Regions from separate parts of the Homo sapiens genome. Here all the other regions are linked to region 1. The links come from fine-mapping of genetic effects on gene expression. A gene starts in region 1. Each other region holds a variant in brackets. All regions are shown on one strand. Distances are from middle to middle.

Evidence for each region. PIP is the estimated chance that this variant, and not a neighbour inherited with it, causes the effect.
Region 2: its variant is the best candidate, but not a certain one, in a credible set for the expression of MISP3 in testis (GTEx, PIP 0.84).
Region 3: its variant is the best candidate, but not a certain one, in a credible set for the expression of MISP3 in CD4 T cells (BLUEPRINT, PIP 0.79).

Annotation. Positions count from the first base shown.
Region 1 is chr19:14,070,912-14,075,075 of GRCh38, reverse strand. MISP3 (MISP family member 3) reads right to left here and starts at 2,290. Exons shown (of 3, transcript NM_001291291.2): 1 at 1,199-2,290; 2 at 613-686; 3 at 14-370. The coding sequence starts at 1,766. The coding sequence ends at 353. MIR1199 (microRNA 1199) reads right to left here and starts at 1,715; the gene lies at 1,597-1,715. It also overlaps the pseudogene EEF1DP1. RefSeq lists an enhancer at 614-1,134 and silencers at 1,322-1,731, 2,302-2,471.
Region 2 is chr19:13,892,374-13,896,537 of GRCh38, reverse strand. It overlaps BRME1 (break repair meiotic recombinase recruitment factor 1), which reads left to right. Exons shown (of 9, transcript NM_001345843.2): 3 at 992-1,166; 4 at 3,315-3,396; 5 at 3,648-3,752. Among named protein-coding and RNA genes, the nearest start is that of BRME1, 12 kb to the left of the region's middle. The variant T/C (reference allele first, on the strand shown) is at 1,733.
Region 3 is chr19:13,199,113-13,203,276 of GRCh38, reverse strand. No RefSeq gene overlaps it. Among named protein-coding and RNA genes, the nearest start is that of IER2, 51 kb to the right of the region's middle. RefSeq lists a silencer at 6-206. The variant C/T (reference allele first, on the strand shown) is at 2,222.

The DNA of each region.
Region 1 (4,164 bases):
AAACAGGCTGCAGTGCCCTGAAAGAAGAGGCTTTATTGGGGGTGGGGGGAGTGGGGCAATCGAGGCGGTAACTCCGGCCCTCTTAACAGTCAAGGGAGAGGGTAGTTCAGTTTGCAATTAGGCAGAGAAGGGCTGGGCAGTTTCACTGGCGGAGTTGTGGGTGGTGGTCAGTTTCCCAATGGGGGACTGTAAGTTTTATAGAGGGGGCTGGTCAATTTCACAAAGGCAAGTCGATTTCATCTTCCCCAATGCAGAGAGCCGACCCTTCTCCAGGCCTAATGCTAGACGCCCCCCGCCCTGTTCCTCTGACGCGTACGTTACTTCCGGCCGGGGGTCCCAGCCTTTTCAAACCTCAAGGTTTGCGCTCCTCCTGGGGACAGAGGACCAGAAGGAAGGCCGGCCTCAGGGACCTGCGCACTGCATCCAGGCTCGGGGTGGCGGTTTGGGCCTCAAGACCACCGTCTCCTCTTCACCCCGGGGATGCGTCCCAGACTGAGTTCTGACCAGAGTGGCCCTCCAGGGAGGATGCACTTTTCCCCACCAAGCGTCCTGGCACCGGAGGGGTGGGGGGACCGACAAGCGCTAGAGGCACACGGGTAAGGGGGCTCCCACCTGCTCCAGGCCGTTCTCCGAGACCTTTCTGCGGGGGGGCCAGATCACCACCAACTTTCCGTCGCCCCTGCTCGCTGCGGGGGAAGGGGCGCTCAGCTCACCAGCTGGCGGCAGCCAGGATGAAAGGCCGGCCGCACCCCTTAAACACACACAGGCGTTCACCCTCCGCCTCCCCATGAAAGCCTCCATTCAACTCCAGGCACCCAGGAACCCGAGGGAGGAGGGAGGTGAACCCAGAATGGAGAAGCAGGAGCCCGAAAATTCAGAGGGAGGACCCAGGAGTGCCAGAACCCAGTCAGGGTTCCCTGGAACCCGACAAAAAGGAAGACATCTGGAATGCCCCCACCCCCGCGCAGCCTGGGTGGTGTGGATCAGAGAGTCCATCACTCCCGGTGGAGGGGTGGATCACAGCGAGTAATGGAGCTCCAGAAGGGGTAGGCAAGAGACAAAATTGAGAGGGGGTCTGGGAGCTTGGAGGGAGAGACCCCGAGAATCGGAGGGCCACAGGAGGGGCCACTGAAGTTGGGCAATCGGTGGGGGCGGCTGGAACCCTGGGGGTCCCGGCGTTGCTACGCCCGCGGCTTACCGGTGAGGCTCGGCGTAGGCTCCTTGAACTCCGCGGTGCCATAGACGCTGCGCCGCTGGCGCTGCAGTTCCTGCTCGCGCTCGCGCACGGCGCGCACCTCCTGCTCCAGCAGTGACGGAGTGAAAGGCGGCGGGGCGCTGCCCAGCACCCGGCACCCGCCCTGCACGGCCGAGCGCGGCCGTCCCCCAGGCTCTGGCAGCCTCTGCGGGCCCGCGCCGTCCCCCGCCCCCGCCGAGGAGCCGCTCCCCGCCGCGGCCTCGAAGAAGCGCTTGAGTTCGCCCAGCGGCTGCGGCGGCGACCGGGCGCGCGGCTCGGGGACCGCGGGGCGCGCCAGCGCCGCCTGCCGGTGGGCCTCCCGCTCGATGTCCCGCTGCATCTGCGCGCCCGCCCGCGCCCGCTCCAGGGCGCGCGGGAGCGCGGGGCCAGGACCCGGCAGGTTGAGCACCGGCCGCACGCGCAGCTCGACGAGTTCACGGCCTGCGCGGCCCGGGCTCAGGCCCCGGCTCCGGCGCAGGCTCTCCTCGCGTTCGCAGCTGCGGCGGATTTCGCGCTCGATGGGCGTCTCCATGAACCGCTCCTCCGGGGGACGCTGGGGAGCCTCGGGGCACGGCGGAAAACGCAGGTGGGGGGCTTCCGAGCCTGACCTGGAGGAGGAGGTCTTAGGGCCTGGAGGGGGATGCTGCCCCTGGACCTCCGCCCTTTGCGCTTCGGACGGCCCAGGGTCGTCTCTGCCTGGCTCAGGACTCTCAAAGCCCGCAGCTGTGGACAGCCCGGGGCTCTCTGCGTCCTGCTCGACTGATGGCTCGAGGACTTCGCTCTCTTGCTCCAGGATCTCCACGTCCTTTGCGGAGGGCTTGGGGACCTCGGTGTTCAGCTCCGCAGCAGCTCTGGGGCTTCGCTGTCTGGCCCTGGGGACTCCTGGCCCTCCTCTTCAGACGACCCCAGGGTTTCGTTCTCCGGCCGGTGGGGGCCTTCGTGTCCAGGGTTGGAAGCAGTTCGGAAGCCTCAGTTCCCAACCGGGGTTTTGATTCCCAGAGCGAGGACAGAGGGCACTGTGAGGCACCTGTGGCGGCAGTGGCGGCCGTGGGTTCCAAGGCGTCGCCCGCACCGGCGGCTTCTCTGACCCGCCTCTGGCCTCCAGGAACGGCCCCCGGGGGCAGGGCCGGGCACCGCCCCCGGCACCTGCCAGGAGGACTCCCGCCCCGCCCTGGCCCCGCCCTCGGGACAGGGGCGCCTCGGTGGGGCACTCAGTTTCATCAACTAGCGCGCCCAGTCACCTCAGGGCACGGGACTTCTTGGAAGAGGGCTTCCCTAGACCCGGCCCCGCTCTCTGGGGGGCCATTCTGGGTGCTGGGTTCTACTGAGCGCACCCTGGCACTTTTTCAGAGCCATGTCCCCGTCATCGTCCCGGAGACTGGGCCCAGCAGCGCGTCGGACTGGGGTTCTGAACCACTAGCCGCTTGGTGAGGTGTCCCCCGAAGCCGTATTTTCGGGACCCGGGCAGTCCCGCTTGGTCGTGCCAGCCGGCAGGCAGCGACTCCTCAGGCCCCTGGGCCCTCCCTCCGATCCAGCCTTGCAGCGCACAGCTCCGGCCCGAGGGGGCGCCAGGAGCCGCCTTACTGGCCGCTGGGGTCTCCCTACCAATGCTTGGGCTCAGCGAGGTTCCCAGCCGCGCACCACTGCCCCCACGCCAAGCCGAGAAGCGGCTTCCCCTCTCCTCCCGGAAAAATCCGGGAGGTGTCCGCTGCCAAGGGCACTCCCGGATTGAGGGAGGAGGGAGAGACGGACACAGTGCGCCGTGGGCGCAGCTTAGCGGTTGCAGTTGAAAGGCGGTCACCTTGGGCCCGGGCGCCTGGGGAGGCCCAGACAGGAAACAGGAGGCGTCCAGGGTAGGGGGAAAGAGCAGCTGGGGCCGGATCATGCGGTTCAAGGGCAGGATCGATGCCCTTGCGCGGGCCACCCTCCCCTAGGGACGTTTTCCACTTTCCCCCTAATGGAAGCAGACTCTTCCCAGAACCTGCCCCCAACCCCACCATTCTGGGGTGCCCAGAAGGAAAAATACAGTTACCGGCCGGGCATGGAGGCTCATGCCCGTGATGCCAGCACTTTGAGAGGCCGAGGCGGGAGGATCACCTGAGGTCAGCAGTTCGAAACCAGCCTGGCCAGCATGGCCAAACCCCGTCTCTACTAAAAATACAAAAAAAAAATTAGCCAGGCCTGGTGGTGGGCGCCTGTAATCCCAGCTACTCGGGAAGCTGAGGTGGGAGAATCACTTGAACCTGGGAGGTGGAGGTTACAGTGAGCCAAGATCGCGCCACTGCACTCTAGCCTAGGCAGCAAGAGCAAAACTCTGTCTCAAAATAAATAAATAAATAAATAAATAAATAAGCTGTATACTTCTGGGAAAAAGTTTTCTCTATAGCACCTTCCCCACTGCATCATCTCCTGGTCCTTCCTCCAGCCATGCCAACTGGGCTGGGTTCTTGGCCCCCTTTCACGGGAACATTTTTTTCTTTTTCTTTTTCTTTTCTTTCTTTCTTTTTTTTTTCTTTTTTTTTTTTTTTTTTTTTTTTGCCGGTCTCAGTCTTTAATCGTGGCAGGGCCTTACGCACGCGCACACATACACACACTCAGGCTTCAGATCTTGTTGAAAGCTGCGATATCGACACTCTGCACGTGCTCCTCAAATTTAGTGATCTCCTCCTCCAGCAAGTAAGTCCCCACCTTGTCGTCCTCCACCACACACTGAATCTGTAGCTTCCGGATACCGTAGCCCACGGGCATCAGCTTGGAGGTCCCCCAGACCAGCCCGTCCAGCTCGATAGAGCGCACACAGGCCTCCAGCTGGGCCATGTCCGTCTCATCGTCCCAAGGCTTGACATCCAGCAGGATGGAGGACTTGGCCACTAATGCAGGCTTCTTGGCCTTCTCCGCGTACTGCCGTAGCCGCTCCTCCCGCAGCTGTG
Region 2 (4,164 bases), 180 kb after region 1:
ACAACCTGGCAATATAATGGGATATATAATATATATAGTATATATTTAATAAATATATATCATATATAAATATATAATATAATACAAGGATATAATGTTTATAATATATTAATATATCATAAATATATAATTTAAATAATATATTTTATAATTATAAATATGCAATATGTAAATACATTATAATTATATATTTTATATGTATGTATATATTAAATATGAATATGTATGTATTTTATATATGATATATAATATATATTAATTTTTTTTTGAGACAGAGTCTCGCTCTGTCAACCAGGCTGGAGTGCAGTAGCGCAATCTCAGCTCACTGCAACTTCCGCCTACCAGGTTCAAGCGATTCTCCTGCCTCAGCCTCCCAAGTAGCTGGGACTATAGGTGGGTGCCACCATGCCCGGCTAATTTTTGTATTTTCAGTAGAGACGGGGTTTTGCCATGTTGGCCAGGCTGGTCTTGAACTCCTGACCTTAGGTGATCCACCCGCCTCGGCCTCCCAAAGTGCTGGGATTATAGGCGTGAGCCACTGCGCTATATATACAAAGATGTCAATAAGCATCTTTAGCCTCTTAAATGCCAGAAGAAGACACATCGCAATTGCTTTCAGTGATGGGGAAGTTAGTGCAGAAATGCAAGGGGCCAGGACGTGGCCAAAGCATCACCTCTTCAGCACCCGGTGGCTGTGAGTCCCAGTTTTCCCAGGATGGCTATTTTGCAGATGTCTCAGCACATTAGAATGGTACATAATTTAGTCTTGTCTGCCCTTGGTGGTGTGCATTTATCCAGTCATGGATAATTTATTTATTGAGCACCAACAGTGTACAAGATGCTCTTACAGGCACTTGGGACCCCGCAGAGAGTGAAATGGATTCGGCCCCTTCTCGCGTGCAGCCTGGTTGTAGTGGGGGAGACCTGAGTTGTCAGCCATGAGCAGTGGCTGTATCCCCCACCCCTTCATCTTCCTCTGTCTCTAAAACAGGAGAGGGACTCTGTCCTCCAAAACCCCTAAAGAACCCAAGGCTAGGAGACTTCTATGGGGACCCCCAGAGTTCCATGTTGGGCTGTTTACATCACCCTGAGGAGCCAGAGGGCAAATTGGGACCTGTTCCCTCTACACAGCAGCACGGGGAGGAACCAGGAAAGGCCGTCTCCAGGTAGGTGGCTCTGAACATTCCGGCAGGTCTCCCCACTGACAGTCCACATAGCACAGCAGCTCAGCAGACAGCAATGCTTTGGGAAAGAGACCCACAACCTATCTAGTGCTGTGACCCACTCCCTCCCAGAGCTCAGGGCCCTCGGATCTCGCTTCTCCTAGCTTTCCTCGCTGGTAAGAAGGGTTGATGTTTTAGCCGGGCATGGTGGCTAATGCCTGTAATCCCAACACTTTGGGAGGCCGAGGGGGGAAGATCACTTGAGGTCACGAGTTTGAGACAAGACTGGCCAACACTGCAAAACCCCGTCTCTACTAAAAATACAAAAATTAGCTGGGTGTGGTGGCGCACCTGTAATCCCAGATACTCAGGAGGCTAAGGCAGGAGAATCGACTGAACCCAGGAGGCAGAGGTTGCAGTAAGCTGAGATCATGCCACTACGCTCCAGCCTGGGCAACAGCGAGACTCCATCTAAAAAAAGAAAAAAAAGTTTTAACTGTGGGCAAAGATAACATTGCATTTTTCAGGGTTACAGAACTCATATTCTGTCTGCTGGTCAAACCCATCCT[T/C]CTTCCACATTCCTCCTCTTCCTTAATCAAGAAGGGAACAAAGGAATTGTTGTTATGTGAGCTAACGACCAATAAAAAAAGAAAAGCAATCAGGGCTGAGTGCAGTGGCTCATGCCTATAATCCCAGCACACTGGGAGGCTGAGGCAAGAGGATCGCTTGAGCCCAGGAGTTCAAGAGGAGCCTGTGTAACATAACAAGGATGACCCCATATCTACAAGAAATAAAATAATTAGCCAAAACAAAACGATATACATATCCTTATTTATTTATTTATTTATTTGAGACAGGGTCTTTCTCTGTCACCCAGGCTGGAGTGCAGTGGCACAATCTCGGCTCACTGCAACCTCCACCTCCCGGGTTCAAGCGATTCTCCTGCCTCAGCCTCCTGAGTAGCTGGGATGAAAGGCGCCCGCCACCACACCCAACTAATTTTTGTATTTTTAGTAGAGACGGGGTTTCACCATGTTGGCCAGGCTGGTCTCGAACTCCTGACTTAAGGTGATCCGCCCGCCTCGGCCTCCCAAAGTGCTGGGATTACAGGCGTGAGCCACCACGCCTGGCCCTTATTTATTTAAATATAACCCTAAGTTTCACTAGTTTTTAAAGACACTATGTTTCTTGCATCCACAATTTCCTTTCCCTAGAATGTGCCGTGTCAGGGCTGGAGTGTCCGTCCAAATGAGAATATCCCTATTCCCAGTTCAGAAGGCAATTCCTGGGATTATAAATGTAACAAAGTCACCTGTTAAGGCAGTGTATTCTCCAGGTGGGACTCTGCACCCTCCTTGACAGTTAAATGTTCTCAGGTCACTGCTTCTCCATCCCCATCCCACTCTTTCAAAGCAGGTTTTCCAGGGCCTTCCATCTAGCAGACATTTTTTTTTTTTTGAGATAGGGTCTTGCTCTGTCACCCAGGCTGGAGTGCAGTGGCGTGATCATAGCTCATTGCAGCCTGAACTCCCCTGGCTCAGATGATCGTGACATTTCAGCCTCTCAAGTAGCTGGGGCCACAGGCACACATCACCACGTCCAGCTAATTTTTAAATTTTTTGTAGAAAAGGGGTCTCACTATGTTGCTCAGGCTGGTCTCAAACTCCTGGGCATCCACCCACCTCAGCTTCCCACAGTGCTGGGATTAAAGGGATGAGCCACCACGCCCAGCCTAGGAGACTCTTAGCACTGGTTTCCTGTTGGATTTTGTTTTGCGTTTGTCTCGATAGGTGAGTGACAACCTAGGAGGATTTCAGATCCCCCTCGTTTGTTTGTTTTTGACACAGAACCTTGTTCTCTCACCTAGGCTGGAATGCAGTAGCACAATCTTGGCTCACTGCAAACACCATCTCCTGAGTTCAAGCCATTCTGCCTCAGCCTCCCAAGTAGCTGGGATTACAGGCGTGCGCCACCACATCCAGCTAATTTTTGTATTTTTAGTAGAGATACGGTTTCACCATGTTCCCCAGGTTGGTCTCGAACTCCTGGCCTCGGTGATCTGCCCGCCTCAGCCGCCCAAAGTGCTGCAATTACAGGTGTGAGCCACCGCACCCGGGCAGATCTCCTTCAGTTTTATCTTTTCCTACATAGCTCCCCTGATGAGGAAACAGGATCTCCCTGCCGGCTCCTCCGTCAACCAGAAAAGGAGCCAGCTCCCCTTCCTCCTTCCCAGGTGAGCTCGTCCTGTGGCCTCGTGGATATAGAAGCACCACTGCCTCCCTTAAAGTTCCGGCTCTGTGTCTCCCTTCTTTGTCACCAATTGCTCACTCATGGTCTACAGGGGCTGGAGGGAATGTGCCCAGAGGGCAAGGGTGGAGTTCTCTCAAGGCTACAAGAAAGGAGCAGGTTTGGGGTTGCTTTTTTCCTAAGACCTCATTCCTCTCTTATCTTTATTGCTGCTTTGTTCTTGTATCCGGTTTACAGAACTCATTCGGGAGGTTTGTTCCCCAGTTTGCAAAATCCAGGAAGACAGTGACAAGAAAAGAAGAGATGAAGGATGAGGACCGTGGGAGTGGGGCCTTTAGCCTGGTAAGGCTCTAAAATCAGCCAGGCTGAGCCCAGCGCAGGTGCAGCCTCCTGGCCCAGCCTCGGCAGCCCCATTTAACCCTGGAGTTCTTTGGCAATGGTGAGGCCTGCACCTCTCCACCCACCGTTTTCAGTACATTGCGCTATGGATGTGTGTTGACTATGCAACAATTCTTTATTTTATTTTTTTTCTTTTTTTTGAGACAGAGTTTCACTCTTGTCACCCAGGCTGGAGTGCGATGGTGCCATCTTGGCACACTGCAACCTCTGCCCCACTGGGTTCAAGCAATTCTCCCGCCTCAGCCTCCCAAGTAGCTGGGATAACAGACGCCTGCCCACCGCGCCCAGCTAATTTTTGTATTTTTAGTAGAGACGGGGTTTTACCATGTTGGCCAGCCTGGTCTTGAACTCCTGA
Region 3 (4,164 bases), 870 kb after region 1:
GCACTCCAGCCTGGGTGACAGAGCAAAACCCTGTTCCAAAAAAAAAAGAGAGAGAGGGAGACAGAGAGTTATTTTAGGAAGGTTTGTTTATGTAGACTCATCTTGGGACTGACTATCTGCAGTGATAGGAGTCATTCTGCTCTCCCTGGTAAGGAGACGGGGGGATACCTCCACAAAGGAAAATTTATGTCACCTTTTTTTTTGAAACGGAGTCGCACTCTGTTGCCCAGGCTGGAGTGCAGTGGTGCAATCTTGGCTCACTGCAAGCTCTGCCTCCTGGGATCACGCCATTCTCCTGCCTCAGCCTCCTGAGTAGCTGGAACTATAGGTGCCCGCCACCATGCCCAGCTAATTTTTTTGTATTTTTAGTAGAGACAGGGTTTCACCGTGTTAGCCAGGATGGTCTTGATCTCCTGACCTTGTGATCTGCCCGCCTCGGCCTCCCAAAGTGCTGGGATTACAGGAGTGAGCCACCACGCCCAGCCTTATGTCACCTTCTTAAAGAGAAGTTTATGCCTGGCTTTGAGGCAGAAAAGTAGAGAGCAGAGAATTCTTTCTGCCTCTACTGATTTTTTTTTTTTTTTTTTTTTTTTGAGACAGAGTCTCGCTCTGTTGCCCAGGCTGGATTGTAGTGTCAGGATCTCGACTCACTGCAACCTCCACCTCCCAGGTTCAAGGGATTCTTGTGCCTCAGCCTCCCGAGTAGCTGGGACTATAGGTTCCCACCACCATGCCCAGCTAATTTTTTATATTTTCAGTAGAGACAAGGTTTCACCATATTGGCCAGGATGGTCTCCAACTCCTGACCTCAGGTGATCCACCCACCTCGGCCTCCCAAAGTGCTGGGATTATAGGCGTCAGCCACCGCGCCTGGCCATCTACTGATTTTCTATTGCATTCAGCTCAGAATAATTCTTATGCTAAAGTTGATAGATAGATACATAGATAGATACATAGATAGATAGATAGATAGATAGATAGATAGATAGATAGATAATAGATTGTTTGTTTGTTTGTTTGAGACAGGGTCTTGCTCTGTCACCCAGGCTGGAGGGCAGTGGTGCAATCTCGGCTCACTGCAACCTCAGCCTCGCAGCCTCGAGCCATCCTCCCACCTCAGCCTCCCAAGTAGCTGGGACCACAGGTGGATGCCACCATATGCCTGGTGAATTTTTTGTATTTTTGGTAGAGATGGAGTTTTGCCATGTTGCCCAGGCTGGTCTCGAACTCCCGAGCTCAAATGATCCACTCACCTCCACCTCCCAGAGTGCTGGATTACAGGCGTGAGTCACTGTGCCCGGTCTCTAAGTGATATATTTTTAAGAGTAACATATCCTGATCCCCTTCAGCTGCCGTCAGAGAACTGGGGTGGGGACGTGGAAGGGTGACATCGCTCTGCTGGAGGACTTGTGAGAGAGCCCAGACTGTGCAGGGGGCCCAGCCAGAGCACCCCAGCTTCCAGGACTGGAACCCCAGCCTCAGGAACTCAGGGCAACGCTGGGGTGAAGGCTCAACTTTAGGGAAATACCCGGAAGCAGAGAGGATGGGGTCAGGACACCCAGCCAGGAAGCTGCATTTATTTCACTGTGCATTGGAGAAAGCCCCACCAGCCCAGCAAAGCCAGTCTCTTACAGATACCAATGATTAAAGTGATAAAACAGGGCCGGGCACGGTGGCTCACGCCTGTAATCCCAGCACTTTGGAAGCCTGAGGCAGGCAGATCATGGAGGTCAGGAGTTTGAGAACAGCCTGGCCAACATGGCAAAACCCCGTCTCTACTGTACAAAAATTAGACAGGGGAGGTGGCGTGCACCTGTAGTCCCAGCTACTCAGGAGGCCAAGGCAGGAGAATCACTTGAACCCTGGAGGTTGCAGTGAGCCAAGATCACACCACTGCACTCCAGCCTGGGCGATGGAGAGAGGCTCTGTCTCAAAAAAATAAATAAATTTAAAAAACTGGGCCAGGCACAGAGGCTCACGCCTATAATCCCAGCACTTTGGAAGGCCGAGGCGAGCAGATCACCTGAGGTCGGGAGTTCCAGACCAGCCTGACCAACGTGGAGAAACCCCATCTCTACTAAAAATACAAAGTTAGCTGGGTGTGGTGGTGCATGCCTGTAATCCCAGCTACTCGGGAGGCTGAGGCAGGACAATCGCTTGAACCCGGGAGGCGGAGGTTGCAGTGAGCCGAGATCGCACCACTGTACTCCAGCCTGGGTGA[C/T]GGAGCAAGGCTCTTTCTCAAAAAAAAAATTTAAAAGAAGTGATAAAACAGGCCAGGTGCAGTGGCTCATGCCTATAATCCAATATTTTGGGAGGCTGAGGTGGGAGGATCACCTGAGCCCAGGAGGTTGAAGCTTCAGTGAGCTGTCATCACACCACTGTACTCCAGCCTGGGTGACAGAGCGAAACCCTATCTCAAAAAAAAAAAAAAAGATAAAATGTTTCAAGTTAAAAAAAAAAAAAAAGTGGCCAGGCGCAGTGGCTGATGCCTGTAATCCCAGCACTTTGGGAGGCCGAGGCAGGTAGATCACAAGGTCAGGAGTTCGAGACCAGCCTAGCCAACATGGTGAAACCCCGTCTCTACTAAAAAATACAGAAATTAGCCAGGTGTGGCAGCGGGTGCCTGTAATCCCACCTACTCAGGAGACTGAGGCAGGAGAATCGCTTGAACACGGGAGGCAGAGGTTGCAGTGAGACAAGATTGCACCACTGCACTCCAGCCTGGGTGACAGAGCCTCCAGTCTGGGAGATAGAGCAAGGCATCATCTCAAAAAAAAAAAAAAAAAAAAAAAATTAAAGAAGTCAGGTGTGGTAGCAAGCACCTGTAGTCCCAGCTAAGGCTAAGGCGAGAGGATCACTTGAGCCCAGGAGTTTGAGAGCAGACTGGGCAACCTAGCAAGAACCCATCTCAAAAAAAAATTAAAGAAATAGGAGTTGGGCCAGGCATGGTGGCTCATGCCTGTAATCCCAGCACTTCGGGAGGCCGAGGTGGGTGCATCACCTGAGGTCAGGAGTTCAAGACCAGCCTGGACAACATGATGAAACCCCATCTCTACTAAAAATACAAAAATCAGCCAGGTGTGGTAGCGGGCACCTGTAATCCCAGCTACTCAGGAGGCTGAGGCAGGAGAATTGGCTTGAACCTGGGAAGCGGAGGTCGTAGTGAGCCGAGATCATGCCACTGCACTCCAGCCTGGGAGACAGAGGGAAACTCCGTCTCAAAAAAATAAAATAAAATAAAAAATTAAAGAAATAGGAGTTGTATTAGTCTCTTCCTGTGGCTGCTGTAATAAATTATCACAGGCTGGGTGGCTTACAATAGCAGACATTTGGCTGGGCACAGTGGTTTACACACATAATCCCAGCACTCTGGGAGGCCGAGGCAGGCGGATCACCTGAGATCAGGAGTTCAAGACCAGCATGGCCAACATGGAGAAACCCCTTCTCTACTAAAAATACAAAAATAAATAAATAAATAACCAGGCATTGTGGCAGACACCTGTAGTCCCAGCTACTCAGGAGGCTGAGACAAGAGAATCGCTTGAACCTGGGAGACGGAGGCTGCAGTGAGCCAAGATCGCATCATCGCCCTCCAGCCTGGGCAACAAGAGCGAACCTCTGTCTCAAAAAAAAAAAAAGTCAGGGCTGGGCGTGGTGGCTCAAGCCTGTAATCCCAGCACTCTAGGAGGCCGAGGCAGGTGGATCACAAGGTCAGCAGTTCGAGACCAGCCTGACCAACATGGTGAAACCCCGTCTCTACTAAAAATACAAAAAAAAATACCTGAGCATGGTGGTGGGCGCCTGTAATCCCAGTGACTTGGGAGGCTGAGGCAGGAGAATCACTTGAGACTGGAAGGTGGAGGTTGCAGTGAGCCAACATTGCGCCACTGCACACTAGCCTGGGCAACAAGAGCAAAACTCCGTCTCAAAAAAAAAAAAAAAAATCCTATCCTTGGACTTCCCTGCCTCCAGAAATGTGAGCTACACGTTTCTGTCGTTCATGAATCCCCCAGTCTACGATATTTTGTTATAGCAGTCCAAACAGACTAAAGCAGATGCTATTCAACCCACATCAGTAACACAAGCGATAAAGGAGGTGCAGACTGTGTCCGCAAATGACCCGGCATCGTGGGATACAGCTAGCCGAGGAAGCACTGGACGCTC